4 linked regions of the Homo sapiens genome follow. The protein of the gene in region 1 interacts with the protein of each later gene in a biochemical or structural test. Each region holds a gene or a part of one and is shown in the gene's direction. Other genes may lie near its edges. The genes, in order: CDH1, YES1, MYO6 and SKP2.

Region 1 (7,034 bases):
CTCCAGATGTTCATGACAGGAGAGGAGGTGGCATGTTGCCACCATTTAGGAACTACTGTATTGTTTGGGGGAGCTGGTCTGCAGGAGTCTGCTTTTAAAAATAAATAAGGATTATAGTAATCATTGCTTCAGCAAGAATCATCCACAGATGCCAAATCCATTGGGTGAAAATTAGTTGCTGAACAAGATATTCTCAAATTATCTACCTGCAGATTATAGGTTAATCATGCAGTGAAAAAAGGCACCTTTGCTGTGAAGAAATCTGGTGGCCTTTCCCTTATCCAAGTGATCAAAGTTATCAATAGAAGCACAGACAGACATCATGTGCCTCCCAGTGTCCTGCACTAGGGAGGCCACAGCATCACCTCTGTCCTGTTCTTGCCCCCACCGACCCCTGAAATGGATTACCTGAATCTAAATTTTGAGGAATAATCAGACAAACCCAAGTTAAGGGGCATGCTACAAAACAACGGCCAGCACATTTCAAAAATGTCAGTGACAGAAAAGAAAGACCTAAGGAAGAGCCATGCCAACGAAAGGCCATATTGGATCCTGAATCCAGAAGGGTGCAAGGTTGCTATAAAGGACATTTTTGGAAAATCTGACAATTCGAATATGCACCATATATTCGACAATAGAATTCTATCAAAGTTTTGTTTCCTAAAATTGAAAATCAAGACTGGTCACGGTGGCTCACACCTGCAATCCCAGTGCTTTGGGAGGCCGAGATGGGTGGATCATCTGAGGTCAGGAGATCGAGACTATCCTGGCTAACATGGTGAAACCTCGTCTCTACTAAAAATACAAAAAATTAGCCGGGCGTGGTGGCGGGTGCCTGTAGACCCAGCTATTCAGGAGGCTGGGGCAGGAGAATGGCATGAACCTGGGAGGTGGAGCTTGCAGTGAGCTGAGATCACGCCACTGTACTCCAGCCTGGGCGACAGAACGAGACTCTGTCCCAAAAAAAAAAAAAAAGAAAAGAAAAAAAAAGAAAATCAAATTGGGGTTATATAACAGAATGCCTTTGTTCTTAGGAGATAACACATTGACATATTTATAAGTAAAGGAACATGACTTCTGCAATTTATTTGCAGATGGTTCAGCAGAACAAGAAATTATGTAGGCGTGTGTCAATATAGACAGAGCAGATGTGGCAAAGTATTAACAATGAGTAAACTCAGGTGAAGAGTTCATGGATGGTCATCATACTATTATAGTAACTTGTCTGTTGTATTGTTGGTTTTCTTGGTTTTCTTTTTTTTTTTTTTTTTTTAAAGACGGAGTTTCGGCCGGGCGCGGTGGCTCACGCCTGTAATCCCAGCACTTTGGGAGGCCGAGACGTGCGGATCATGAGGTCAGGAGATCGAGACCATCCTGGCTAAAACGGTGTAAACCGCGTCTCAACTAACAATACAAAAAAATTAGCCGGGCGTGATGGCGGGCGCCTCTAGTCCCAGCTACTCCGGAGGCTGAGGCAGAAGAATGGTGTGAACCCAGGAGGTGGAGCTTGCAGCGAGCCGACATCGCGCCACTGCACTCCAGCTTGGGCTACAGAGCAAGACTCCGTCTCAAAAAAAAAAAAAAAAAAAAAGAAAGAAAGGGTTTCACTTTTGTTGCCCAGGCTGGAGTGCAGTGGTGCAATCTCGGCTCACTGCAACCTCCATCTCCCAGGTTCAAACGATTCTCCTGCCTCACCCTCCCCAGTAGCTGGGATTACAGGCGTGTGCCACCACACCCAGCTAATTTTTGTATTTTTAGTAGAGACAGGGTTTCACCATGTTGACCAGGCTGGTCTCAAACCCCTGACCTCAGGTGATCTGCCCACCTCAGCCTCCCAAAGTGTTGGGATTACAGGCATGAGCCACCGCGACCGGCCTATTGTTGGTTTTCAAAATAAAAACGTTGGAAGTAACCATATAACTGAAGAAGCGCTTAAGCCGTTTTCAGCTACATGTTGTTTGCTGGTCCTATTCTAAAAGCCAGAGCTTGTCCCCGTTCAGATATCGGATTTGGAGAGACACTGCCAACTGGCTGGAGATTAATCCGGACACTGGTGCCATTTCCACTCGGGCTGAGCTGGACAGGGAGGATTTTGAGCACGTGAAGAACAGCACGTACACAGCCCTAATCATAGCTACAGACAATGGTAAGGGGGCCTCATCTGAGCCTTTGCTGCCTCGACCTCCTAGCTAGTTCAGTTCCTTGCCCCTCCCTTCTTTTGGAGGGAAGAGTTCATTCTTTTTCTTTTATCCTTTTTGTTTGCTGGATTGATTTGTATAAATGTATGGAGTACAAGGGTAATTTTGTTACATGCATAGATGTGTAGTGGTAAAGTCAGGGCTTTTAGGGTATCCGTCACCCAAATAACATGCATTGTACCCATTAAGTAATTGTTCATCATCTACCCCCTCCCACCCCTTGGACCCTTCCCAGCTGCCATTGTCTATCATTCCACAATCTACATCCATGTGTACACATTATCGAACTCCGACTTCTAAGTGAGAACATGCAGTATTTCTCCTTATATGTCTGATTCGTTTCACTTGAGACAATGGCCTCCAGTTTCATCCATGTTGCTGCAAAAGATTTCTCTTTTATTCTTAAACAAAGGCATTCTTATTATCAAAAATTCAAGTGGGCTGGGCACGGTGACTCACACCTGTAATCCCAGCACTTAGAGAGGCTGAGGTGGGAGGATCACTTGAGCCCAGGAGTTCAAGACCAGCCTGGGTAACATGGCAAAACCCTGTCTCTACAAAAAGTACATAAATTAGCTGAGTGTGTTGGTGAGCACCTGTAGGCCCAGCTACTCAGAAGGCTGAAGTGGTAGGATTGCTTGAGTCTGAAAGGTGGAGGCTGCAGTGAGCCAAGATTGCGCCACTGCTCTCCATCCTGGGCAACAGAGCAAGACTCTGTCTCCAAAAAAAAAATTGTTTTTTCAAGTAATTTTGGTCAAACAGAACTTACTTTTCACTACTCACTCTTTATTCCTTCCCTAAGGGAACCAGGTAATGATGGTTTACAATCCATTTCCAAAGCTTAATACTTGTGTGACCTTGGATTTGCTGTTTAATTTTTTTTTTTTTTTTGAGACAGAGTCTTGCTCTGTCACCCAGGCTGGAGTGCAGTGGTGCAATCTTGGCTCACTGCAGCTTCCGCCTCCCAGGTTCAAGCAATTGTCCTACCTCAGCCTCCCAAGTAGCTGGGATTACAGGTGTGCACCACCACGCCCAGCTAATTTTTTGTATTTTTAGTAGAAACGGGGTTTCACCATATTGGCCAAGCTGGTCTTGAACTCCTGACCTTGTGATCTGCCCACCTTGGCCTCCCAGAGTGCTGGGATTACAGGTGTGAGCCACCGTGCCTGGCCTGCTGTTTAATTTTTATGTCCCTCAATTCCTTTACCTGAAAAATGTTAATACCCATGTGGGTGAAATTAGTTAGGTGTTAAATCAGTTAGGTGTGGGTCCTTCCAGACTGCTTCTGTGTATTTAAATACATTTATAGGCTGGGTGCTAGGGTCACACCTGTAATCCCAACACTTTGGGGGTCTGAGGTGGGAGATGGCTTGAGGCCAGGAGTTCAAGACTAGCCTGGGCAACATACTGCCCATAATCTCAAAATGCTGGGATTACAGGCATGAGTTATCATGCTTGGCCTCCTTGAGTTAATTTTAAATGACGTGTGCTCATTGTTAAAAAATAAAATTTACATGAGAAAAAAGTTTTAAAAATTTACAGTCATGCCATCTAGACATATCTATTTATAGGTTTGAGATGGATTCTTCTGTTGTTTTGTATCCGTATCGTATACTAATATTGATGATAGTTCCCTGGGTACCAATTTTTCCTACTACCATATGCTCCGTGTTGTGTCAAGATATAAAAGAAATGCAAACAGAAGTGTGGATGGGCTGGGCGCAGTGGCTCACGCCTATAATCCCAACACTTTCAGAGGCTAAGATGCGAGGATCACTTGAGCTCAAGAGTTCAAGACCAGCCTGAGCAACATGATAAGACCCCCTCTCTACAAAAAAAATTTAAAAACTAGCCAAGCATGGTGGCATGCGCCTGTAGTCTCAGCTACTAGGGAGGCAGAGGTGGGAGATTAAGCCCAGGAGGTAGAGGCTGCAGTGAACTGTGTTCATGCCACTGCATTCCCGCCTGGGTGACAGAGTGAGACTCTGCCTCAAAAAAAAAAAAAAAAGCGTATGTGAACTCCCCAATCTATTTTGAAAACCAATTTGCAGAGACTTCAAAAGACCCAACTCATCCCCTTTGATTTTAAGCTTCTAGTCAGGCTTAAAATTAAAATAAATAAAAAGACTCAATGCTTTGTTAATGACCTCAAATGGCAGGAAAGTGCAGAAAAAGGAGAACTAGGGAAACAACAGGCAGGCAATAGGACTTCTTGGAGTAGTTAAAATTCAGTGAATGAATAACGATATGTGAAGAAGGAGGAGTGTGTTCTTGGTGTGAGGAATAACTTGAATAATTGTTATCAAGGTGGGAATAAGTTGTCTGTGTAAAACGGCCAGAGACCTGCCCACCTGGGAGTGGAGGTCCTTTGGGATTGGTGGGACAGGAGGTTCTGCGGGTGGAGTGGGGCCTGGTGAGGGACCACTGAAGAGCCAGGACAAGATCTAGACTTGGTCTGGTGGAAGGCAATGGGGATTCATTACTGTTGCCAAGCTGCCACATTTTCTGTGTATTTTCTCTTAGGTTCTCCAGTTGCTACTGGAACAGGGACACTTCTGCTGATCCTGTCTGATGTGAATGACAACGCCCCCATACCAGAACCTCGAACTATATTCTTCTGTGAGAGGAATCCAAAGCCTCAGGTCATAAACATCATTGATGCAGACCTTCCTCCCAATACATCTCCCTTCACAGCAGAACTAACACACGGGGCGAGTGCCAACTGGACCATTCAGTACAACGACCCAAGTGGGTACCTGAGTTTTATTTTGGCAACTTTGCTCCAACTGCCATGCTTCCCTTCCCCCAGATCCCCACCTTTCAATTTCCCTTCTCAACTTCTAGATGTCACCCCTTCCATTGATACTTGCTTCCTTGTCCCTTCTGTCTTTGAGGCCTTGCTCCAAAGGTCTTTTTCCTTTCCTGGTATCTAACTTTGTAGCATGCTACCCAGTAATCTAAAACCCAAGCAGGGCTCCCTCTCCCAGCCTCTAGCCACCCTCCACTCCCCTCTCCACTTGCAACCAGGACCATCTTCTCTGCTACCTCCTGCTCCTGGGACCAAACAACACCATTTTTGTGGTTAGCTCCTTCTTGCCAACCAATCGTGAGCTCCCAGATTCATCAGAACTATTCTACCGAGGTGGAGGCAGCTGTCAACTGCCTGGTCAATTTGCATATATGGGCTTCCTACACCTACTTCTCTCTGGGCTTCTATTTCCACCATGACGATGTGGATCTGGAAGGTGTGCACCACTTCTTCCACAAATTGGCCAAGGAGAAGCACAAGGGCGCTGAGTGTCCCTTGAAAATGCAAAACCAGTGTGGCGGCCGCACTGTCTTCCCGGACATCCAGAAGCCATGTAAAGATGAATGGGGTAAAACCCTGGGTGCGATGGAAGTCACTCTGGCCCTGGAGAAGAACCTGAACTGGACCCTTTTGGATCTTCATGCCTTGGGTTCCACCTGCACAGACCCCCATATCTGTGACTTCCTGGAGAGCCACTTCCTAGATGAAAAAGTAAAACTCATCAAGAAGATAGGTGACCACCTGACCAACCTTCACAGGCCAGCCGGCCTCCAGGCCGGGCTGGGCAAAAAGGTTCACCCTCAGGCACACGGGAGCCTACCGAACCCAGCGACATCTGAAGAGCCCCGCTCTGCCTAAGCCTCTCCCTCCAGCCACTAGGCAGCTTTTTTAAACCAACTCTAGAGCCCTCTCCCAAGCCTTAGACCAAATGGAAATAAAGCTTTTTACAGCAAAAAAAAAAAAAAAAAAGTACATACCTAAATAAAACCCAAGCAGCTCTGCTCTCTTCACTCGGCTTGCGGGTGTCTTTAGTTCACTAGCAATTTTATTCTGGAATGAGCTTTTTATTTTCCTCCCCTGGTCTCATCATTTCTTTTTATTGCTTTCTCCAGCCCAAGAATCTATCATTTTGAAGCCAAAGATGGCCTTAGAGGTGGGTGACTACAAAATCAATCTCAAGCTCATGGATAACCAGAATAAAGACCAAGTGACCACCTTAGAGGTCAGCGTGTGTGACTGTGAAGGGGCCGCTGGCGTCTGTAGGAAGGCACAGCCTGTCGAAGCAGGATTGCAAATTCCTGCCATTCTGGGGATTCTTGGAGGAATTCTTGCTTTGCTAAGTAAGTCCAGCTGGCAAGTGACTCAGCCTTTGACTTAAAAAAATGGAGGAGGTTTATTTCCTGGAAATGATTTTTGTTCTTATATTAATAAGGATATAGGTTAGCTGATGTGGGAAAGAGACTCCCAAGTTATGCCAGCCTCCATAAAATAGAAGTTTGTCTCTTACTGAACATTTCAGAGGTAAATGGTCTAAGATGGGAAGGCCATGAAGTCAACAGGGGACCCAGGTTTCTTCTACCTTGTCTCTTTTCATTCTTCAAGACAGTGCATCCCAAGCTTGAGAGCATACAAATCATCTGGGCCTCTTTTTGAACTGGGAAATCTGATCCAGGAGGTCTGGCATAGGGCCACAGATTCTGCATTTCTTTTTTTTTTTTTTTTTTTTTTGAGATGGAGTTTCGCTCTTGTTGCCGAGGCTGGAGTGCAATGGTGTGATCTCAGCTCACTGCACCCTCTGCTTAACAGGTTCAAGCGATTCTCCCGCCTCAGCCTCCTGAGTAGCTGGGACTATGGGCATGTGCCACCACGCCCAGCTAATTTTGTATTTTCAGTAGAGACGGTGTTTCTCCATTTTGGTTAGGCTGGTCTCAGACTCCCGACCTCAGGTGATCCACCCGCCTCAGCCTCCCAAAGTGCTGGGATTACAGGCTTGAGCCACCGCACCCGGCCAGATTCTACATTTCTAA
Region 2 (7,570 bases), on another chromosome or scaffold:
ATGTATTCTAACTCCAGTTTTGCAGTGGCTGTTGCCTGAATTGTGTTGAGGATTCTGAGGATGGTATTAATGCTCTGGGGGAGAGTATATGCTATGCCATGGTCTAAAAGCCATGACTGCCATGGGCAAGCAGGAGGAGAGACTGACCTGCCAGCTCTGTTCTAGGTTTGGGGTCTTCTATGTGACAAAAGTCACAAGTCTCAAGTCTCAGTGTTGGGGTCCCACAATCTCTTATCTCCCACCTCTGGCTGTGCCTGCTTCATCCTCTGTGAAAACTGGATTCCCCATCCCACTCCCACTGCCTCTCCAAGCACGTGGCAGGAGATGCCACCCTCACAGCTCCTGAGTTTACTGTTGGCTGCACAAGTAAGTAGCAAAGACTAAGTAATGGTTTTCATTTGCAAAGAACAAAAATGGTCTCTATTGAAGCATAAAGGGAATTTATTGGAGGATGGTGAGAATCAACAGGAAGACTAGAGGAGCAGGCTCAGGCAGGAAGCAAGGAAGGCAAGACAAAGTCCAGGTTCTGCCACGGGGATGGTATGCTCATGACGCAGGCACCACCAGCACTGGAATCCTCTACCCCTGGACACTCATCTTCTGTCATTTGACTCAACTCCACCATGGTTACCATGAATAATCACTAACCGAGTTACTTTTGTGTTACTCCTCAAAATTCAAACTTTCAGCCTAGAACCTGGGATTAGCAGTACTCAGATCATAGGCCTACATGCCACCTATCGAAGAATTAATTCTCAGAGAAGAGGAACTTGAGTTAAACAGGCACCCTCAAGAGGTGTCCACTACAGGCTGTATTCTACTCGGCAGAGGGCATGTAAGAGGATGTAAGGTGCTCATCTGGCCTAGAAACTGCTGTCACCAAACAGAGTGAGAAACCAAGCTGAGCCTATGAAAGTCTGAAGCTGTGGGTAAAGCTACCTAGGAATAAGCAGAGTGGTACCAGAAGCTAGAGCTGAAACCAGGGACTTTGGTAGATAAAACAGGCCTGGGTCAAGCTGCAGAACTAGAAAGAATTGAAGTCAGAAATAAAACAAGAGATGTCCCCAAAGTAGATTCCAGTAGCAAAGACTATACTGCCAGAAAATAGTTCTGGAGCGGAGAAGGCATACTCAGCACAGGGTTAAATTCTAAGATTGTAAACCAGGTAGTGAAGAAGTGAAAAGCTAGAGAGAGCAACAAAAGGGAGCAAGATGGAGACAGACTTGCTGAAGTTCATGTAAGATTGCCATGTTTGACATTTATTAATTGCAAGACACATTTGATTGACAAATATTCATTGCAGGATATGTCCTTCTATATCCATTTATTTATTTATTTATTTATTTATTTTGAGACGAAGTTTTGCTCTTTCACCCAGGCTGGAGTGAAGTGGCATGATCTCAGCTCACTGCAACCTCTGCCCCCGGGGTTCAAGCAATTCTCCTGCCTCAGCCTCCCGAGTGGCTGGGATTACAGACGCATGCCACCATGCCTGGCTAATTTTTGTATTTTTTTTTTTTCAGTAGAGACAGGGTTTCAACATGTTGGCCAGGCTGGTCTCAAACTCTTGACCTCAGGTGATCCACCCACCTCAGCATCCCAAAGTGCTAGGATTACAAGCTAAGCCACCGCGCCTGGCCCTCAATATACATTTACTTAGGTCGCTTAGACAGTCTTTTCCCAGTTGAGGGGAAATAAAACTGTAATATAGAAACCACAGTCCTTGAGGCAATGAAGACATCAGGAGCATTGAGAACTTGATGAGTTGGTGCATTTCTCCACTGAGCTTGGCACAATAGGCCCAACACTCAAGGAGAAATACCTTCCTTTTTCCTGATCTTCCAAATTAATCCTTAGAGAGGGGTTCTCATATTCTTCCTAACTGGGCATAGGAGCAGTCTTGGCCAGGTGGAGGCGGCAAAGCTAAGGTGGTGCAGACAATGTCAGGCACTGAATGGATTTGAGGAAGGTGGTGAGGGGATGGTTGTTAGAAAAGAGGCACCTTGTGTAGGGCTGCAGGCTTTTTTACTGTTACCAGGAAGAGAAAATCATCATAGCCTCAGTGGCGGAAGCAGCAGCAGCAGCATATCACTGATAGCACGTAGGAGAGGTTTACCCTAAACAAAAACATTTCCTGGTAGAATCACAGGTTCCAAGGTGGTACTGAGTGGGCCCTAGTTCAACTTTCAGCTTTTCAAACTTCCAGCCAAATAATTTTAAGCATTAATCAACTTACATAAATGAAAGCATTTTACTTTTATAGGGACCTAACATATCTCATAAAGTTTGTTTGTTTAAAGCTTTCCCCTAGCTTTTTCCTCCAGCAGACATTTCCAGGGGTTTCAAGACTTAAGTTCCTTATCACTCCCTAACACACATGTACATACCACACCTCTATGCTGTGCAGGAGGGAAAAGTAGGGGCAAGCTTATTTGTCCGTTTCAGGATGAACAGATTAAAAGCAATTTTTGTTACACCAAACTCAGTAAGACTTTCCAGTTTTCTCTTCCTCATTAAAAAATTTTTTAAAAAATATTCCTGGAAACAAGTGAGCCACTAAATGTAAGATTGAAAACTTTCCAGGTTATTTACAGACTGAAGTTTGACATTGATGAATATACTAAAAAAGAAATCAGGGAATGTAGTAATAAAAAAAAAAAGGGAGGGCGAAGAGAAGCAAACTCAGTAAGTCAATGTAATCCATAACTTGTAGGTGACATTCTGACATACTCTCCCAACTTTAAAACTCCATATAGAACATCTTCAAAGCCACCTTACCCCTTAAACTGGGGCAAACTACTATTTCATTTCATTATTATTTTTTAAAATATATTTTACTAAATAGATAGGAGGTCTCCCATGTTGCCCAGGCTGGTCTCCAACTCCTAGACTCAAGTGATCCTCCTGTCTTGGACTCCCAGAATGCTGGGGTTACACGTGTGAGCCACTGTGCCCGGCCTATTTTAGAGGTGATTTTTGAGACTGAGTGTTTAGGAAGACGAAATTATCTCTATTTAGTGAAGAAAGGCAACAGCTCAAGGAATTTTCTATTTTAATAAAAGCTGAATATAGACCTACATAAAATTTTAAAGCCCTGAGACAGTCAATGACAAATGAAGTTTTAGTAGCTAAGAAAATACAGCATCGTTCCACATTATGTGTCTCTTTAACGCCTACGCCTACCTTTCGTTCATTTAGTGAGCTGAAGAAAAAAATGTTCAAACCCTTATATGCATTTCCTTAAGTTCCTAGAATACCGGAATACTGACACATATGATTGCACTATTTCCTATCCGTCGAAGATGATTCTGAATTTCACTAAAAACCGCAAAGGAAACCAATAGTCACAAAATAATTCTGATAACCCCACCAAAGAGGAAATAAAGAGAGGAAGTTACTCTAAAAGTCTGATAGGGCAAAAGTGACTGCAGCAGAAGGGCCTCAAGGTTCAGTCCATGAGGACCTTGATTAACCTTCATCTTTACGCCCCCACCCCATCCTTCCGGGTCCTCCCCCTTCTTCAACGACTGGCTTTACAAGGCTCATAGGAAAGGTGCGTGTATTCAGACGGACACGATTCCAGCTGTGGCTCCTCCACTTTCAGGGTCGCTGTTTCCACAGTTGACAAGCAGGAGAACCATACTTGTTGCACTTCCCTCACTGGGCTGCCGCCAGCATCATATAGAAAAACGCTGTCCCAACATAAGCCAAAGCCACCATGACTGGGATAGTCGCCAAACAGAACTCAGCTTCGGTTCCCCTCCCGGCAAGGCTGGTTCGACCTACAGTCAACAGGAAGCTCCTGGGGGCAGGGACAGGATCCCTGCCTCGGAAGGAGGCAAGACGTGAACGTTTTTTGGACGGCGATCAGGATGGTGATGAGGGTGTGAGTAACGCCCCCGGCTCACGCGGTTGGGCTTGAGATTTTACTACCAACGACAAAGGGTGCGGAAGCGTAGCGCTGAGAAGCAAACAGCCAACCAAAAAAACTCAACCCCGTCCTCCCCCACAAAAGCAAGCCCCAAAGCCCTGGCCACTACTGAGAGCTGGGCCAAGGAACAGAGAAAGGCAGAGGGGCAGAATCGGAGCGCTCCATTCAATCTCCGCGGCAGCCGAGCGTCGGTGGGTTCGCGGGTGGGAAGGGACGCCGCGGGCCTGCTCTCCGGGCAGGGAAGCACCTCCTCCTCACGCCCCCTCGGCCTGCACCGCCCCCGGGAATCCGCCCCGGACCCCGCCGCCATGTTGGGTCGGGAGAAGTGACACGGACCGGTCGCCTATCCTGACCACAGCAAAGCGGCCCGGAGCCCGCGGAGGGGACCTGACGGGGGCGTAGGCGCCGGAAGGCTGGGGGCCCCGGAGCCGGGCCGGCGTGGCCCGAGTTCCGGTGAGCGGACGGCGGCGCGCGCAGGTACCCGCAGCCCCCGCCCCCGCTAGAAGTCAGGGGGCGGGGCCGGGGGGGGGGGGCGGAGGAGGTGGAGAGTGAGGCCGAGGCGTGGGGAGCCCGGGAACTCCCTCCTCCTGAAGTAACGCGTCCCGGGCCGGCTCTGCCGTCGTTGCTGCCGCCGGGCGCCCCGGGACGAGGAGGTGGAGGAGGGAGAGGGCCCGCGGGCCTCGCCTCCGCCCTCCGCCACCTCGAGCTGCGGTAGCAGCGACTCATGAGAGCGCGGCCGGAGGACAGGTAAGGACCCGGTGGGGCCCCGCGGGCGGAGGGTTCCACCTCTGCCCGGACAGGGCTAGGCCCCAGCGCCCGGAGCCGCCGCCGCCGCCGCCGCCGCGGTTCCCCGCCCCCGCGGGCCCGAGTCGGGAAGTTGGGAAGAAACTTCTCCCCTCCCCCGGATCGCCCGGCGGGCTTGTCTCGTTCCCCGCGCTACCTGCTCGCCCCTGACTCGGTCTCTGCCCTGTCCAGACCTGCCGGGTCCCGCCCAAGTCCGACCTGAGGTTCCAGGGGCGTGGGGACACTCCCCACCCCTTGTCTTTGGGGTCGTGTGGACCGCCCGGCGACGGGGAGGAGAGGTTTATTTTTGCCCCTACGGCCGAAGTAGGGGCGAGGGAAGCGGCCCCTTTGGGTCCTAAAGGCTGGGGGTCTGTGTATCGGCCGACGCCGGTAGCAGCTGTGCGGGGAGAGGAGCGGGTGTGTGGGGCGAGTGGATGAGCCTTTCTGGCTTTACTTGGTTTGATTGAAAACCGCAACATGTTTAAAGTTTTCCTTTGTTTTGGGTTGGGGGTTGGGAAATTTACCATTCAGCGTCCACTTTTACGGAATCATGCCACTCCGCCTCCCGTTGCGTTCGGTTCCCTGTCCACATGTGTTAAAGAAAATTGTCTTAAAGTGTGTTTTTCTTCTTGATAATTGCTTCCAGCTTTCACTTTATTGGGCATGGGGCAGAGCTGTTTTAAGAAGCTCTTTGAAAATCAAGTCTGGTGTAGGGACTTTAGTTTTTGTTTTGTAATGAGTAGGACTTAACAGTTCGGATTTGGTTGAATCATTTTCTGCATAATTAATTGATACAGGCGTGGAATAACATACTGTATAATTATAAATTACTAAAGGAAATAATGAAAGTCTTTGGTGGAAGCACAATTTTATGTCCATTTATTATGTATATACGTTCCACGGGTGTGTGTTTTCACAGTCGATTTCACATGATATGATTATAGTATCTTCATGTATTATAACTGTAAGATTACAGTGCCAAAGATACCTTGATAATTTTAAATATTTAAACCATCCTGTTACACTTCTAAAGTTAAATTACGCACTAAGGAAAGTATTACTAAATGTATACACGTGACTGTGCATTTAAGGAAAAGTGCATGGTAAATCTAATATCTTAACTATCACAGTGCTTGGCACACGGTGGACAGGAAGCATTTTGAATGGTCAGGTAATAAAGGAGTATCTTGTATTAGCCAAGGATCTTGTATGCATCACTTACGATGTTCATATATTGTACAGTAAGAAAGTTTTACTTTAGCAAATAATATATATGGTTTTTTGGTTTTTGTTTGTTTGCTTATAAGTGTGAGACCCCTGCCACAATTGACATGTAAGGAAAGGAAGTTAAATTGTATTTTTATTTTTGGACATTAGCTAAAAGTCGGTGGAGATTTTAAATGCTGGTTGACAATTCAGAGGGTCCTACATTTGAAAAAGACAATTGCCTTTGATCTGAAAACAAAACAGTTTATATCCATGTTTCCAGGATAAAAGATAAAAGGGCTCTTAAAATATATACTCTGTTGTAACCACTGTAATGTTATAATGGCTTTAATTTCGTAGTTAGGTTTTGCTGACTTCATAAACCACAAAATTGATTCCTTTCTGTTCATCTGAAAGTGAAATTACAGCTTTGACCTGTCTTCCTGGGTTAGGTGGAATTTGTCTTGTGGTCGAAGTATAATATTAATACATGGGCTGTTTTTGTGTGTGTGTTTTAGTTCAGGAAATTCACAAGCTGAAAAATTAATGTCTATGCAAGTAAAATTTCTTCATGGTATGTATTGATAAAAGAATAAATGTGCTAAAAGACTAGAAGTAAACCTGTATAAGTGAAATATTACCAACCGATGGTGTAAGACTTACTTATTCAAAGTTGAAATTTGCATCATGTTAGACAGTAAATGATTTACTACTATGGCTAGTTTTTCTTTACAAAATCAGTGTAGACATCGTTTATTCTATTAGCATTATAGTAAGAAAGAAGACTAATGCCAAAACAATTTTTTAAGTGATGCTAAGCGCTGGGGTCACCCAAACTTGGGTAATTAAAAAAAAAAAAAAACCTGCAAGGAAATTCTGTGAACGTAAAAATAGAAGCATAGAATACCTGTGGTTCTATGAAGGGAAATATATGGGAAGAGGGAGGAGATTGTGATAGGGACCTGGCTTCTGAAGTGGTGACAAAGTTCTTTTAACCTGGTAGGAGTTACCAAGGGTATTGGTCTTAGTGTAATTCATTAAGCCCTACGTTTGTGTGCAGAATCTGTTTCTATGTTTTATTTTACATGAATTTGTTGTTGTTTTTTTAAGGAATCCAGTGTGTAATGTCTATATAAGGTGCTTGGTTTAAGAACATAACTTGGTGGCTGACTTTCGAACACTACCTAGGCTATCCTTTGCAAATAGGATTAGATTTATTAAATCATAATTGTCATATACCAGCTGTATGTATAACTACTTTGAACACGTCAGGCTGGGCACGGTGGCTCACACCTGTAATCCCAGCACTTTAGGAGGCAGAGGGAAGGGGATCACTTGAGGCCAGCAGTTTGAGACCAGCCTGGCCAACGTGGTGAAACCCCATCTCTACTAAAAAGTACAAAAATTATCTGGGTGTGGTGGCGCGCCCCTGTAATCCCAGCTACCTGGGAGGCTGAGGCACGAGAATCGCTTGAACCCGGGAGACAGAGATTGCGGTGAGCTAAGATAGTGCCAGTGCATTGCAGCCTGGGCAACAGAGTGAGACTGTCTCCAAAAAAAAAAGTCAAATACTCCGAAATGTACAATAATTAGAGAATTTTTGGGAAAAAATTTCTAAATAAAGTTCTAGTTCGTTTTCTTTAATAACTT
Region 3 (7,000 bases), on another chromosome or scaffold:
AAATGTTAAAACTGGCTGGGCGTGGTGGCTCACGCCTGTAATCCTAGCACTTTGGGAGGCTGAGGTGGGAGGATCACTTGAGGTCAGGAATTCAAGACCAGCCTGGCCGACATGGCAAAACCCTGGCTCGAATAAAAATACACAAATTAGCCCAGCATGGTGTGTGCCTGTAGTCCCACCTCACCTACTCAGGAGGCTGAGGCATGAGAATCTCTTTTTTTTTTTTTTGAGATGGAGTCTTGCTGTGTCACCCAGGCCGGAGTGCAGTGGCACGATCTCAGCTCACCGCAAGCTCCGCCTCCCGGGTTCACGCCATTCTCCTGCCTCAGCCTCCCATAGCTGGGATTACAGGCGCCCGCCACCATGCCTGGCTAATTTTTTGTATTTTTAGTAGAGACGGGGTTTCACCGTGTTAGCCAGGATGGTCTCAATCTCCCGACCCTACGATCCGCCCGCCTTGGCCTCCCGAAGTGCTGGGATTACAGGCGTGAGCCACCGCGCCCGGCCGAGAATCTCTTGAACCTGGGAGGTGGAGGTTGCAATGAGCCAAGATCATGCCATTGCACTCCAGCCTGGGTTGAGACTGTCAAAACAAAAACAAACAAAAAAGGTGTTAAAACTTTGTTTTTGATGTCTGATATATAATAATATGGTCGTCAAGATTTCATGTTTCTTGAGCATTACTTTGTGAAAATGAGTTTTTTTAATATATGTTAGATTTAAACTGAATAATTTTCTATCATTTTATTTTACTCTTACACATAGTGAAAAACAAAATAAAATATCGAGCTGAAGCCTGCATTAAAATGCAAAAAACTATTCGAATGTGGCTTTGCAAGAGGAGACACAAACCTCGGTAAGATGAATAGTTCCTAAAAAGAACTCTACAAAACCTAGTTACTGTAATACAAAATGACAATAAAGTCATAATAAAAAGCAGTTTGGATACTCAGGTTTTCTCATGTTCTTTGTAAAATGATGTATTAGTCTTTTATTTGTAATATTTATTTGAAGTTAGTTAATTCATTTATTACCTTATTACTTGCCTCATTCTATAAAAGGATTTGAAGTGGCATACAAAAATGTGTAAAGACTATAAAACAAGAAGTAAGTAGTTGAGAGAAGCTCTTTTATTCTGATTATTTTAGTTATTTGAGTTTCTTGATAATGTCAAGGTGACATTTTTTAAAAAACATCTCACTAATATGTTTACATAATTTTCAAGATTATCTGTAGGAATTACATTGTCCCATTATAAATTAGTGTATTTCTTATTTGAATCTTTCATTTTTAATTTACACTTTTAAAAATTGGAAGTCTGAATATCTCTATTGATCCATCACACCTTTTCAAAGAGACTAGATTAATTTCCTCTGTGATTTGAATTCTCAAAGTTGTAGAAGGCTTTAATCCCATTGACAGGCATCAGTGTCATTCACACTCATATTTGATTTTTTTTAGCCTTCAACAAGAGATCTGAAAAAGAGAATAGTAGATAATATTGAAAACAGAAGTGAAATACCCTGTTTAGCATTTTATAAATGAAAAATCTGCCAAAAGTACTAAAGGATGAAATTAAGCTCTAATGAAGTATTATTTTTACAGCATTGATGGTCTGGTTAAGGTGGGCACACTGAAAAAACGACTTGATAAATTTAATGAGGTAGTCAGTGTGTTGAAAGATGGAAAACCCGAGATGAATAAACAGATCAAGAATCTGGAAATTTCTATTGATACTTTGATGGCCAAAATTAAGGTATGTAATTTCAACCCGAATGACTTTGACTTTTTATGTAATTTAATATATTTTGTTATTGGTATTGAAATTGTATAGAAAACGTCCTTAGTTTTTCAAAATTACAAAATGTGTTGAGACTCAATGATGGCAAGTACATGCTCATCATTATTACCTCTACTCTTTATGTTTGAAAAATTTCATAGCAAAAAGTTAAAGAAGACAATTTTTATGCCATTTCTTCTGTTGCTAAGAAAGATATCCCTCGCAACTTAATACCTAGGTGATGGGATGATCTGTGCATCAAACCCACCATGGCACACGTTTACCTGTGTAACAAACCTGCACATCCTGCACGTGCATCCCTGAAATTAAAATAAAAGTTGGAGGCCATACATGGTGGCTCATGCCTGTAATCCCAGCACTTTGGGATGCTGAGGCGGACGGATCATGAGGTCAGGAGATCGAGACCATCATGGCCAACATGGTGAAACCCTGTCTCTACTAAAAATACAAAACTAGCTGGGTGTGGTGGCGTGCACCTGTAATTCCAGCTGCTTGGGAGGCTGAGGCAGGAGAATCGCTTGAACCTGGGAGGCGGAGATTGCAGTGAGCCAAGATTGTGCCACTGCACTCCAGCCTGGTGACAGAGTGAGACTCCATCTCAAAAAAAAAAAAAAATGAAAAAAGAAAACTAAAGTTGGAGCAAAAAGAAAATGGCCGGGCACGGTGGGTCACGCCTGTAATCCCAGCACTTTGGGAGGCCGAGGCAGGCGGATCACAAGGTCAGGAGATTGAGACCATCCTGGCTAACATGGTGAAACCTTGTCTCTACTAAAAATACAAAAAAAAAAAATTAGCCAGGCGTGATGGGGGGCACCTGTAGCCCCAGCTACTTGGGAGGCTGAGGCAGGAGAATGGAGTGAACCGGGGGGGCGGAGCTTGCAGTGAGCCGAGATCGCGCCACTGCACTCCAGCCTGGGTGACAGAGCAAGACTCCGTCTCAAAAAAAATAAATAAATAAAAATAAAAGTGGTGGGGCATGGTGGCTCCTGCCTGTAATCCCAGCACTTTGGGAGGCCGAGGTGGGCGGATTATTTGAGGTCAGGAGGTTGAGACCAGCCCAGCCAACATAGTGAATCGCCGTCTCTACTGAAAATACCAAAGTTAGCCAGGTGTGATCGCACGCGCCTGTAGTTCCAGCTACTTGAGGCAGGAGAATTGCTTGAACCCAGGAGGCAGAGGTTGCAGTGAGCCAAGATTGTGCCACTGCACTCCTGCCTCAGCGACAGAGTGAGACTACGTCTAAAAATAAATAAATAAATGATAAAAGTAATATAATACTATAAAAAATTTGGAGGCCAGATGTGATGGCTCACACCTGTAATCCCAGCACTTTGGGAGGCCCAGGCGCAGGGATCACCTGAGCTCAGGAGTTAGAGACCAACCTGATCAACATGGCCAAAACCTGTCTCCACCAAAAATACAAAAAATTATTTGGGCATGGTGGTATGAGCCTGAGGTCCCAAGGAAGCTGAGGTTAGAGGATTGCTTGAGCCTAGGAGATGGAGGTTGCAGTGAACAGAGATTGCACCACTGCACTCCAGCCTGGGTGACAGTGAGACCCCTGGCTAAAAAAAAAAAAAAATTGGAGAAACCACCAAAAACCTCTTAATACCTCCACATTAACAAATTCAGTTAGTTACTGTTATTTTTACAGTATAATTTTACTTGTTTTTACTTTACCTTACATTCTCTTTTATGCATACATTTTTACAGTTCTTATCATAATATACATTTCAATTTCTATCTCTACCATTGTTATATACTTGTCCATGTTAATACATTATCTTCATAGATACGATAATGTAATTAATTTTGTGAAAATAGCAATTTCCTCTCCAATTTTGTAGGAAAAAAATGGGATCCCTTATTTTGTTTTGATTTTTATTTATTTGATTACTAGTGGAGTTGAAGACTTTTCTATATGCTTGTTAATTATATTTCATATTTCATTAATTACATTTCATATCTTCTCATTATATTTTAGAGTTTTAATGCTTTTTCTCAGTTTCATAGGTCAGTGCAAGTATGTGGGATATAATGAATATCTTAAAGTGAGCGTTTTATATTTTCTGCAGATATTTTATGTAAACAATGGCAATCTTGGAGGTAGAAAGGAAAAAAAAGATCTGGAGGAAAATGAAAATGCTATAAATAGACTCAGCTGATTTTATAAATCTGTCAAGGGCCATCTTTGTTTATGTGGTATCATTATAAATTAAAATTAACCCACCCACATTTTTTGAAGGCTAATTTTAGAAATCCAATAATTTTGGATATATTTTGTAATTTTTAAAATATTCTCTAGGTACTATTTGAACATTATTCTAAAATAGTAGTAAACTATTGCTAAATTAGCTGATCATTACTTAAGAAATAATTCTTTTTGAGATAAGAGGCTTGCTCTGTTGCCCAGTCTGGAGTGCAGTGGCATGATCTCGGTTCACTGTAACCTCCGCCTCCCGGGTTCAAGCAATTCTCCTGCCTCAGCCTCCCGAGTAGCTGGGACTACAGGTGTGTACCACCATGCCCAGCTAATTTTTGTATTTTATTTTTATAAGAGACAGGGTTTCACTATGTTGGCCAGGCTGGTCTCGAACTCCTGACCTCAGGTGATCTGTCCACCTTGGCCTCCCAAAGGGCTGGGATTATAGGTGTGAGCCACTGCACCCGGCCTAGAAATAATTTTTAACTGCAGTATATTACCTTATCCACAGATTACCTGTCTAATTGATGTGTAATACTTGTGTGCAGAGATAACATAAAACATTTTTTGAATAGTATTTAATGTACAAACAGTATAGTAAAGATAACGGACGTATTGCTTACCATCTTACCTAGTTTTTGCTGTATTTGCATATTGGAGTAGTTTTTTATTTTAAATTGTAAAAAACAATAAAAACATTAAAATTTATCTTAGCCATTTTTCAGTTTATAATTCAGTATTGTTAAGTATATTCACATTGTTGTGCAACAGAAGAAATAAGCTTTTACGTACCTATTTATTTTATTTTTTAAAGTCCACTATGATGACGCAGGAACAAATCCAGAAAGAATATGATGCACTGGTTAAAAGCTCAGAGGAACTCCTCAGTGCATTACAGAAAAAAAAACAGCAGGAAGAGGAAGCAGAAAGGCTGAGGCGTATTCAAGAAGAAATGGAAAAGGAAAGAAAAAGACGTGAAGAAGACGAAAAACGTCGAAGAAAGGAAGAGGAGGAAAGGCGGATGTGAGGCATTTATATTATTTTGAATAAGAGACTTAAAGAAATAGTGAATTCTTGGTATTGACAGTGGTTAATGACAATTATTTGTTTTGTTTTGTTTTTGTGACAGGGTCTTGCTCTGTTGCCCAGGCTGGAGTGCAGTGGCGCGATCTTGGCTTACTGCACTCTGCCTCTCGGGTTCAATCGATTTTCCTGCCTCAGCCTCCTGAGTAGCTGGGATTACAGGTGCGCACCACCACGCCTGGCTAATTTTTGTATTTGTAGTGGAGACGGGGTTTCACTATGTTGGCCAGGCTGGTCTCAAACTCCTGACCACAGGGGATCCACCCGCCTCGGCCTCCCAAAGCGCTTGGATTACAGGCGTGAGCCACCGTGCTCGGTTGACAATTCTTAAAACTGTGTTCTTATTTTAATGAACTAATTTTGTAATAAGTTTGAAAATTGAGAGAATAAGGTCATTTTATAATAGTGATACCATAAAATAATTTTAACTATAATCTGAATTTGTTAGCCTCTTACACCTGAGGATTTTCTTCTTTTTAAAACTATGATTTGTTTATTGTTTTCTAAGCTAGATAAATGACACTTCTACTTTTCTGCAGTTTTAAAACTGATAACATTTTGAAAGATTGCCATGATAGGGTAGAGAGAACAGATGAGTTGTTGACTTGGAGAGGGACTAGAGGGAAGCACCTTTAATCAGGACCTTACAGCCAGGCTTTGTAACCACATTCATCTAGAGATGTTAAAAGTTATAGAATATAATTATATTTGTTTTATTTAAGAATTATTGTCAATAGAGTTAAATTTTATTTTATTCAAAATAAGTTGATGTATGTGGCCAGGAGGTTAATTTGCATTCCCAATCTGTTACCTTTGTTTATTATTAAATAATAGTTAAATTGCCTTCTGAAGGATTCTTTATTTTCTGTTAAATTTTTGAAGAGTTTTCTATTTTTTATTAGGAAACTTGAGATGGAAGCAAAGAGAAAACAAGAAGAAGAAGAGAGAAAGAAAAGGGAAGATGATGAAAAACGCATTCAAGTATGTACTTACTGGGTTGAATTTCTATTAAAATGGAACCTACAGGCTGGGTGTGGTGGCTCATGCCTGTAATCCCAGCTCTTTGGGAGGCCGAGGCGGGCGGATCACGAGGTCAGGAGATCAAGACCATCCTGGCTAACATGGTGAAACCCCATCTCTACTTATACGAAAACAAATTAGCCGGACATGGTGGTGGGCACCTGTAGCCCCAGCTAATTGGGAGGTTGAGGCAGGAGAATGATGTGAACCCAGGAGGCAGAGCTTGCAGTGAGCCAAGATGACACCACTGCACTCCAGCCTGGGCAACAGAGCGAGACTCCATCTCAAAAAAAATAAAAAATAAAAAATAAATAAAATAAAATGGAACCTATGAAAGAAGTGAAAATGAGATCTTGATTTGCTAGATAAGCTGTCACTAGTTTATCCTAGAGACCAAAGGCCAGTTTTTGAAGTGGTTATGGGAATGGACTTTGGAGCTAGGGAAGTGGGTTCAAATCCAAGATCAGTCACTGACAGAAATTGTGACATTGTACACATTATAGTGAGGAACTATGGGTCACAGTTGTCTCTCTGTAGAATGTGGATAAATAATAGTTGCAAGCATTTGACAGTTAATACATGTTAAAGCATTGTGAACACTGTGTAGATCAATAAATATTAATAATTGTTTTTATACCTAGGGGAAAGTCAAATGAAAATTCACTTAAAATGTTAAGTTTTAAAATATCATATAACTTTGTAGATACTGGAATTAATAAATTAGGATTAAGAGTCTCTCTCCACCCCTAGTTTTTAAAAAGTCCCATGTTGAGAATAAATTGCTCATGTATTTGAATTTCTGTTTGTCATGGCTTTCATAATATATCCTAAGCATAACCAAAACTTTAAATTCCTGACATCTGCTCTCTAGGTGTTAGTGTTAATGGGATGCC
Region 4 (7,034 bases), on another chromosome or scaffold:
TCTAAACACAGCAGCCAGAGTGATCCTTTTTGAACTTACGTGAGGGCCTGTCATTCCTGTGCTCAGAATCTTCTAGTGGTGCCTCATAGAATTCAGCGTCAAAGCCAAAGGCTTTATCATGACCTAGGAAGCCTGCATGACCTGGCTGCTCTCTGATTTTTCTACCCACCTACCTCTGCGCTCTACACTGGCCTCCTTGCTATGCCTCAAACACACATGCTGTTCCTTGGATCTAGAACACGTACACCAGATACTCACAGGGCTCACTCCCTCACTTTGTTCAAGCCTTTGCTTAGTGATCGTCATCTCAGTATGGCCTTCCCTGACCACCATGTTCAAACTTAATAACATCTGCTCTGAACTCTCTGTTCTCTCCCTTGCCCTGTTTAATTTTTCTGCACAGCACAGATCAATTTTACTATATCATATAATGTACTTATTTTTTGATGTGTGATTATCTGTTCCGCATTACTGGAATGAAGTCCCACGAAGGTAGTGTTTTGGGTCTGATTTACTACTCCTTCCCAACACCTAAAATGATACCTGGCACCATAGTAGGAGCTCAGTAAATATTTGTTGAATTAAGAAATGACAATACCCTTTTGTATTGCTCTTTTAGGTAAACTGTGCCTTTTGTAAACCTGAAAGAAAGCATATTAGTCTGTTCTCATGTTGTTAATAAAGACATACCCAAGACTGGGTAATTCATAAAGGAAAGAGGTTTAATTGACTCACAGTTCAGCCTGGCTGGGGAGGCCTCAGGAAACGTACAAGCTTGGTGGAAGGGGAAGCAAACGTCCTTCTCCACATGGCGGCATCAAGTGCAGAGCAAAGGGGTCGGGGAAGCCACTTGTAAAACCATAAGATCTTGTGGGAACTCACTTATCACCAGAACAGCATCAAATTACAGGGGCGGTTATCACCAGGTAACCGTCCCCATGATTTGATTACCTCCCACTGGGTCCCTCCCGCAACACATGGGGATTATGGGAACTACAATTCAAGATGAGATTTGGGTGGGGACACAGCCAACCATAGCAGAAAGGGAAGAAGATTTATTTGCCTTTTAAATAAGGTCACTACTGAGTCCACATCAGAGAGAAACAAGGCCTTCCTTTGCACCCAGAAGCACCACAATATCTTATTGATGTCAATGAATTGACAATGTCATTGAATGACATTTGAGAGGGTGGGACTTGCTCTGTACCACTCTTCATGCCACAGCCTCCGATTGGCTGGCTAGAGCTGAAGGGAAGAATAGGAAAAGTGTTCTGGGTTTCTCTTTTTGATTTGCTGAGAGAGTGTGGTGGTCACTTCAGGGTACATAGATGATGGAATGGGGAATTTAACACGAATTAAATTACTCATCACCACAATTATTTTTCTGTTCAACAGAAATGATTTTTCAAACAAAAATAATTGTGAGGATGAGTAATTTAATTTGTGCTAAATTCCTCATTTAAGCTAAATGTTGTATATTCTTTATGTGTTTGAAAAGACTCAGTAGACTTGATAGGGTGAAAGAATGGTGATGGCAAACACTTGTTTTCCCTCCAAAGGTGTTTCATGGGACTCCCTTCCGGATGAGCTGCTCTTGGGAATCTTTTCCTGTCTGTGCCTCCCTGAGCTGCTAAAGGTCTCTGGTGTTTGTAAGAGGTGGTATCGCCTAGCGTAAGTATTTTTCACCCCTTTGGCAAACGTAGGGGAGGAAGAGGAGAGGAAGGTTATTTATTCGTTTTGGTCTGATGAAACTAAAAACCAAGAAAAATAGAGCAGCGCAAAGCAAACTAGGTATCTTCATATTTTTATTAATCAGTGTCCTCATTTCACAGTGGAAGAGGAATTTCCTGGGAGGGATAAACTTACCAATGTCTGGAAACCTCTTTGCCCTGTATTCAGTGCAGCATGTGTTTATGGGATGCTGACTGTAGGCCAGGCGGTGTGCTTTAAGTGCGGAGAGAGTTACAGAGGTGCATGCAGACAGCGGTTCCTCACGCCGCTGGGCTGAGCAGTGAGCACAATAGGGAGAGGGAACACAGGCTTGGTGTTAGACCCGAGTGCACACCCAGCCTCTGCTGCTTACGCTCTGCATGACCTGAGTGAGTTAGTTGACACTGCTGAGCCTCAGTCTCCCCATATGTAAATGGGGATAATGGTTATGAGGAGGAAACCACTGGTTATGAGGATGAAATGTGAAGATGCTGGTGTAATGCCTGACTCACAGACATGTTCCACACAGAGTAGCCATTGGTGGGGTTGTGCTCTTTTTTTGGCAACACTTTTCAAGTGTGGAAGGTGAGTTGCATGTGGAAAGACTTGGTGAGCTGGAAAGGCAATAACAGGCCTGGAGCAAGAAAAAGGCTATGTTTATCAACTGGAACTTTTTACTATCTTCATGCCTTCTCATCCCTATCCTACCTCCTGGTCATTCTTTGCTTTGTGTTTAAAGGCCATCCGTCTGGCTTCTCCCTCCACATACTTAGAACTCCCTGTGTGAGATAGCAGGAGCCTCTTGCCTTCAAGGGCGTGCTGCTATTTACAGGTGTGGGTTGTTTGCTTAGAAGAGCCGCAGAGAGGGTTGCACACCTGGAATGCTGGTGCAAGTGGCAGGCAAGTTTCACTTACCCTCACCGCACTCAACCCCACTTTGGTTTTCTTTTTCTGCCAGCTATGCATTTATCCTCTTCTTGCAGAGTCTGTTAATCCCATTTTAAAATTTTATTGTATATATTTAAGGTATACAGCATGATATTTTGTTATAAGTATGTGAAATGGCTGCTATCATTAACATATTCATTATCTCACATAGTTACCTATTTTTTGTGGCAAAAGCACCTAAAATTTACTCTTTTAGCAAACATTCTGACTACAATACAGTATTATCGACTCTAGTTCTCCTGTTGTATACTATATCTTGGGATGTGTTCATCCTGCATATCTGTGGCTTTGTATTCTTTGACCTACATCTCCCTTAGAGTCTGTTAAACTTCATCTCAGTTGTCATAAAAGTAATTACTGACATTTATTAAGCACTTGCTTTGTGACAGGTGCAGTGTTTGCAATTTAATCCTCCATATGATTTTAAGTGATGGTGTTTGTGTCATCTCAGCTTCAGAGGTGAGGAAACTGCAGGGTCAGGAATAGTAGGTTGAGAGATAAGTGGAAAGGCAGGAATCTAAAGTTTGGCTAACTCCACGGTCTTAACCATCATACCATATCTAGTTATGCTTGGCTTAGGGTTCAGGTAGCTCCCAAATTCATTTTTCTGTGAGGTGTTCATCTTCCTAAAAAATGTATATTATTTGGAAAGAAAATGAATTGTTCCAAAACTTCTCCCAGGTTGTTGTTATTGAATGCTGGTTAAGCTATAGTTTGCCTTCTTGCAAGAGGAAACATCAAGCATGAGATTCAAGACAACCAGAGCAGTGCTGATCTGGTGTCAATACCAATACCTTGGAGGCCAAAATGGATTTCTGTCTGGGCAAGAAAGATACAAAAGTGTGCCACTCTCTTAAGGATATCTTATCTACAGTCCACCTTTTTAATGATAGATTTGTCACACAAATCACACTGACAATTTTTTTATGATGAAGTTATTTCATAACTCTGGCCAGTGGTCCACTTATTTCAAGCACTATTAAAAAAGAAAATTCTAGTACACCTAAGCATTTAAAATGTTCCTTCATGTGCTTATATTTCACATTTTCTTTTTTTAAATTGAATTAAACTATGGATATTAAAACCCTCTTACTGTGCTATTCAGTACGTTTTTAGAACATCCCTTTTGTTTTAGAAACACCATCTATAATCCGTTGTATTTTTCCCTTATTTCACATTAGTTCATACACACACATATGTACACATACATATACACGTGTATGTTTTAAGCTTCAAATATATTATAAGGCACAGCTGAACCATGACTGTTGCTATTGAATATCTATGACAGCCTTATTTCATAATAAAATAATGCTAACTTTCGTTCCTTTAGTAATTTTCCATGTTGCTACAGTAATCATAATTGCTTGACAAAAGTGTCAAATAGATTTAAAACTTCTTAGAGGATCCTATTTGCCTAGTAATATAATAATTAATTGATTTGAGCAATCATTTTTTAAATTTGTCAACTTGAATGCTGGAATATGATTCTCTGGTTCTAGATCACGGCAGTGCTAATGTTCACATTGAACCATCTAAATTGGAAGTATATAGAAAGAGAAAGATGGAAGCTTATCCCTGGTGAAATCAAGAAAAATTCTCTAGTGCCTTAAAAATATCATAGCTAATTGTATAGCCAACTTAAAAACAAAAGTTCTTTTAGAATATGCTTCAAGGAGATTTAGCAGCAGTGTCCTACCTGTTAGTAATGTTGTTGAGGGCTTCCAGCATTTAGTGTGACCGACTGGCCAAATTAAGTATCTCCTCTTTTATAGGTCTGATGAGTCTCTATGGCAGACCTTAGACCTCACAGGTAAAAATCTGCACCCGGATGTGACTGGTCGGTTGCTGTCTCAAGGGGTGATTGCCTTCCGCTGCCCACGATCATTTATGGACCAACCATTGGCTGAACATTTCAGGTAAAGATGAAAAATCCCTGGAAAAGACTATTTCTAAATTTCGAGGTAGAAACAGATCAAAGCTTTTTTTTTTTTTTTCTTTCTTCAGCCTTAAAGCCTATGGTAGGTTATCTGTGCAGTGTGGGATGTTAATTCCATACTTTGCTATGGGGCCTTTGTGCTAAAACCTAGCATAGATTTCAATGACACTGTTCCCATTTCACTCAAGTTTACTGTTAGTCTCTTCCCAGGGTGAAAGAGGCACATTTGTCTTCTCAAGTCCTCAGCTGATAGGGGGACTGTGAGTCCCACAAGGCAGGCACAAGTAAAGCACTCACTGGCAGATGCAAGGGTGCCCAGTTACTTCCCCAATGCCCATTTCTGATAAATAAAAAAAAGTGAGGAGTCTTTTCATGTTTGTAGCTTGGGGTTTATGATTTTTGTCTTGGAGAAATTTGGAACCTGAAAAAAATGCCCTCTTTTTGTTTGTTTTGTAGAATATTTTGAAAAAGAATTTTCTGTTCTGATAATTTTGCAATACTGAGGTTACTGCTATCACATAGTAGAATAACTAGGTACTGAACAGAAAAACAAGCTGAAGACAACAAAGCTAAAGATAAAACATGTCTCCTGACTCCAGTACTTTTTCCCTTCTTTCCGTAGTCAGGACCGCCTCTCCCACTGCTTTTTATCCTGTTCCTCCTGTGGCTGTTCCTTCTCAGTCTCCTTCACATATGTGATTTCCTCTGTTCACTCCAGGGTCGGTTCCTGGCTGCCACCTTTTTCAAATCCAAATGCTGTCCCTGGACAAGCTGTGTCCTCTACACCCACATTTATGCCCAGGACTCTCAGTTCCTCATCTATAGCTTGGCCCTCCCTTTCAAATTCCCAAATTTCTAATTACCTAAAAACGTCTGTACCTGAATTTCTTACAAGGACTTCAATATTAGCATAACTCAAATTTGGCCTCCCTTTTTTTTTATTGTTTTTGTTTTTTGAGACGGAGTCTTGCTGTGTCACCCAGGCTGGAGTGCAGTGGCGTGATCTCGGCTCATTGCAACCTCTGCCTGCCAGGTTCAAGCAATTCTGCCTCAGCCTCTCGAGCACCTGGGGACTACAGGTGTGCGCCACCACGCCCAACTAATTTTTTGTATTTTTAGTAGAGACTGGGTTTCACCATGCTGGCCAGGCTGGTCTTGATATCCTGACATCGTGATCCACTGGACTCAGCCTTTCAAAGTGTTGTGATTACAGGCGTGAGCCACTGCGCCCAGCCTGGTCTCCCTTTAAAACTTTCTCTTCCGCTACCTTCCCTGTTCTATTGCTGCTCACCCACTCACCCCTGCCAGAAACCAGGAGCCGTTATGGTCTTAATCTCCTTGTCACCCACATCCAGCTCATTGTTGTGATGCCCACTCGTTATTTTCTAAGTGGGACTATATTGGCAGCAACATCTGTACTTGGCAAAAATCCTCTTGCATTTTAAAATGAATGAAGATGGGAATACACTAGTAGCAATATGTTTTATGACCCTATAGTTAATGCTTGAAGTATGTATTTAGAGTCTTGTTTGTGATTGGCTGCTCATTTGGGGAGAAGAGGGGTCTGGTTTGAAATTGGATGTACCCGTGAGAGCCACCTATGGAGCTCCTTTTTTCTCTCCGTGTTTAGCCCTTTTCGTGTACAGCACATGGACCTATCGAACTCAGTTATAGAAGTGTCCACCCTCCACGGCATACTGTCTCAGTGTTCCAAGTTGCAGAATCTAAGCCTGGAAGGCCTGCGGCTTTCGGATCCCATTGTCAAGTGAGTGGCAGGCAGAGTGTCACAAAGGCAGTTGATTTTATGTGTATGAATTTTTTTCCCTGTATATAACTGGGGTGCCCTTCTAGCCATATCCAGGTGGATACAGAAAATATCTAGTGCAGTGCTCTAGCTTCTGCAAAACTTTTCAGGACTCATTGAAGCAACAAAAGCTTGAATGCTAACTATATGCCAGGCCCTGTGCTAGGTTCTAGAGATACAAGTACAAGGATGAACAATGCATGTGTATTATTTGGGAAGAAAATGAATGCTCTAAAACTTTTCCCACCTTGTTAGTGAATGCTGGTTAAGCTATAGTTTACCTTCTTGCAAGAGGAAACATTGAGCAAGACATGTCTATTTTCTCTTGCAAGAAGGTAAACTATTTATGAGCAAGACAGATAATTACCATGCAGTGTGTTTATTAAATGTTTCAGTGAATATGTGGCAACACACGAGGAGCCGCCTTGTTAGAGGAAGTGACTCTTGAGTATTGAAGATATCTAGGTAGGAGATCTCTAGGTAATAAGACAAAGCAACCAGTCTAGGTAAAACTTCCTGTGTGGTTCTAAACTCTTACGTAGTTGGAAGTTGCTGGAGCACAGGACTAAGGGAGGAGAGTGACAAGGTGAGGAGAGTCAGGGACCAGATTGTAATGGGCCCCTACGCCTTGCT

The links.
Region 2: the proteins of CDH1 (region 1) and YES1 form a complex in vitro, tested with the Homo sapiens proteins (one study listed by BioGRID).
Region 3: the proteins of CDH1 (region 1) and MYO6 form a complex in vitro, tested with the Homo sapiens proteins (one study listed by BioGRID).
Region 4: of the proteins of CDH1 (region 1) and SKP2, one has a biochemical effect on the other in vitro, tested with the Homo sapiens proteins (one study listed by BioGRID).

The regions. Positions count from the first base shown.
Region 1 is NC_000016.10:68,817,280-68,824,313, forward strand, and holds part of CDH1 (cadherin-1 isoform 1 preproprotein), read left to right. Parts: intron 1-2,000; coding exon 2,001-2,146; intron 2,147-4,721; coding exon 4,722-4,946; intron 4,947-5,169; exon of another isoform or gene 5,170-5,953; intron 5,954-6,119; coding exon 6,120-6,347; intron 6,348-7,034.
Region 2 is NC_000018.10:809,222-816,791, reverse strand, and holds the start of YES1 (tyrosine-protein kinase Yes), read left to right. Parts: upstream 1-4,549; 5' UTR 4,550-4,678; intron 4,679-7,570. UniProt on the Homo sapiens protein: Non-receptor protein tyrosine kinase that is involved in the regulation of cell growth and survival, apoptosis, cell-cell adhesion, cytoskeleton remodeling, and differentiation.
Region 3 is NC_000006.12:75,885,239-75,892,238, forward strand, and holds part of MYO6 (unconventional myosin-VI), read left to right. Parts: intron 1-765; coding exon 766-856; intron 857-1,605; coding exon 1,606-1,756; intron 1,757-4,818; coding exon 4,819-5,027; intron 5,028-5,989; coding exon 5,990-6,068; intron 6,069-7,000. UniProt on the Homo sapiens protein: Myosins are actin-based motor molecules with ATPase activity. Unconventional myosins serve in intracellular movements. Myosin 6 is a reverse-direction motor protein that moves towards the minus-end of actin filaments.
Region 4 is NC_000005.10:36,162,086-36,169,119, forward strand, and holds part of SKP2 (S-phase kinase-associated protein 2), read left to right. Parts: intron 1-1,559; coding exon 1,560-1,671; intron 1,672-4,433; coding exon 4,434-4,577; intron 4,578-6,227; coding exon 6,228-6,362; intron 6,363-7,034. UniProt on the Homo sapiens protein: Substrate recognition component of a SCF (SKP1-CUL1-F-box protein) E3 ubiquitin-protein ligase complex which mediates the ubiquitination and subsequent proteasomal degradation of target proteins involved in cell cycle progression, signal transduction and transcription.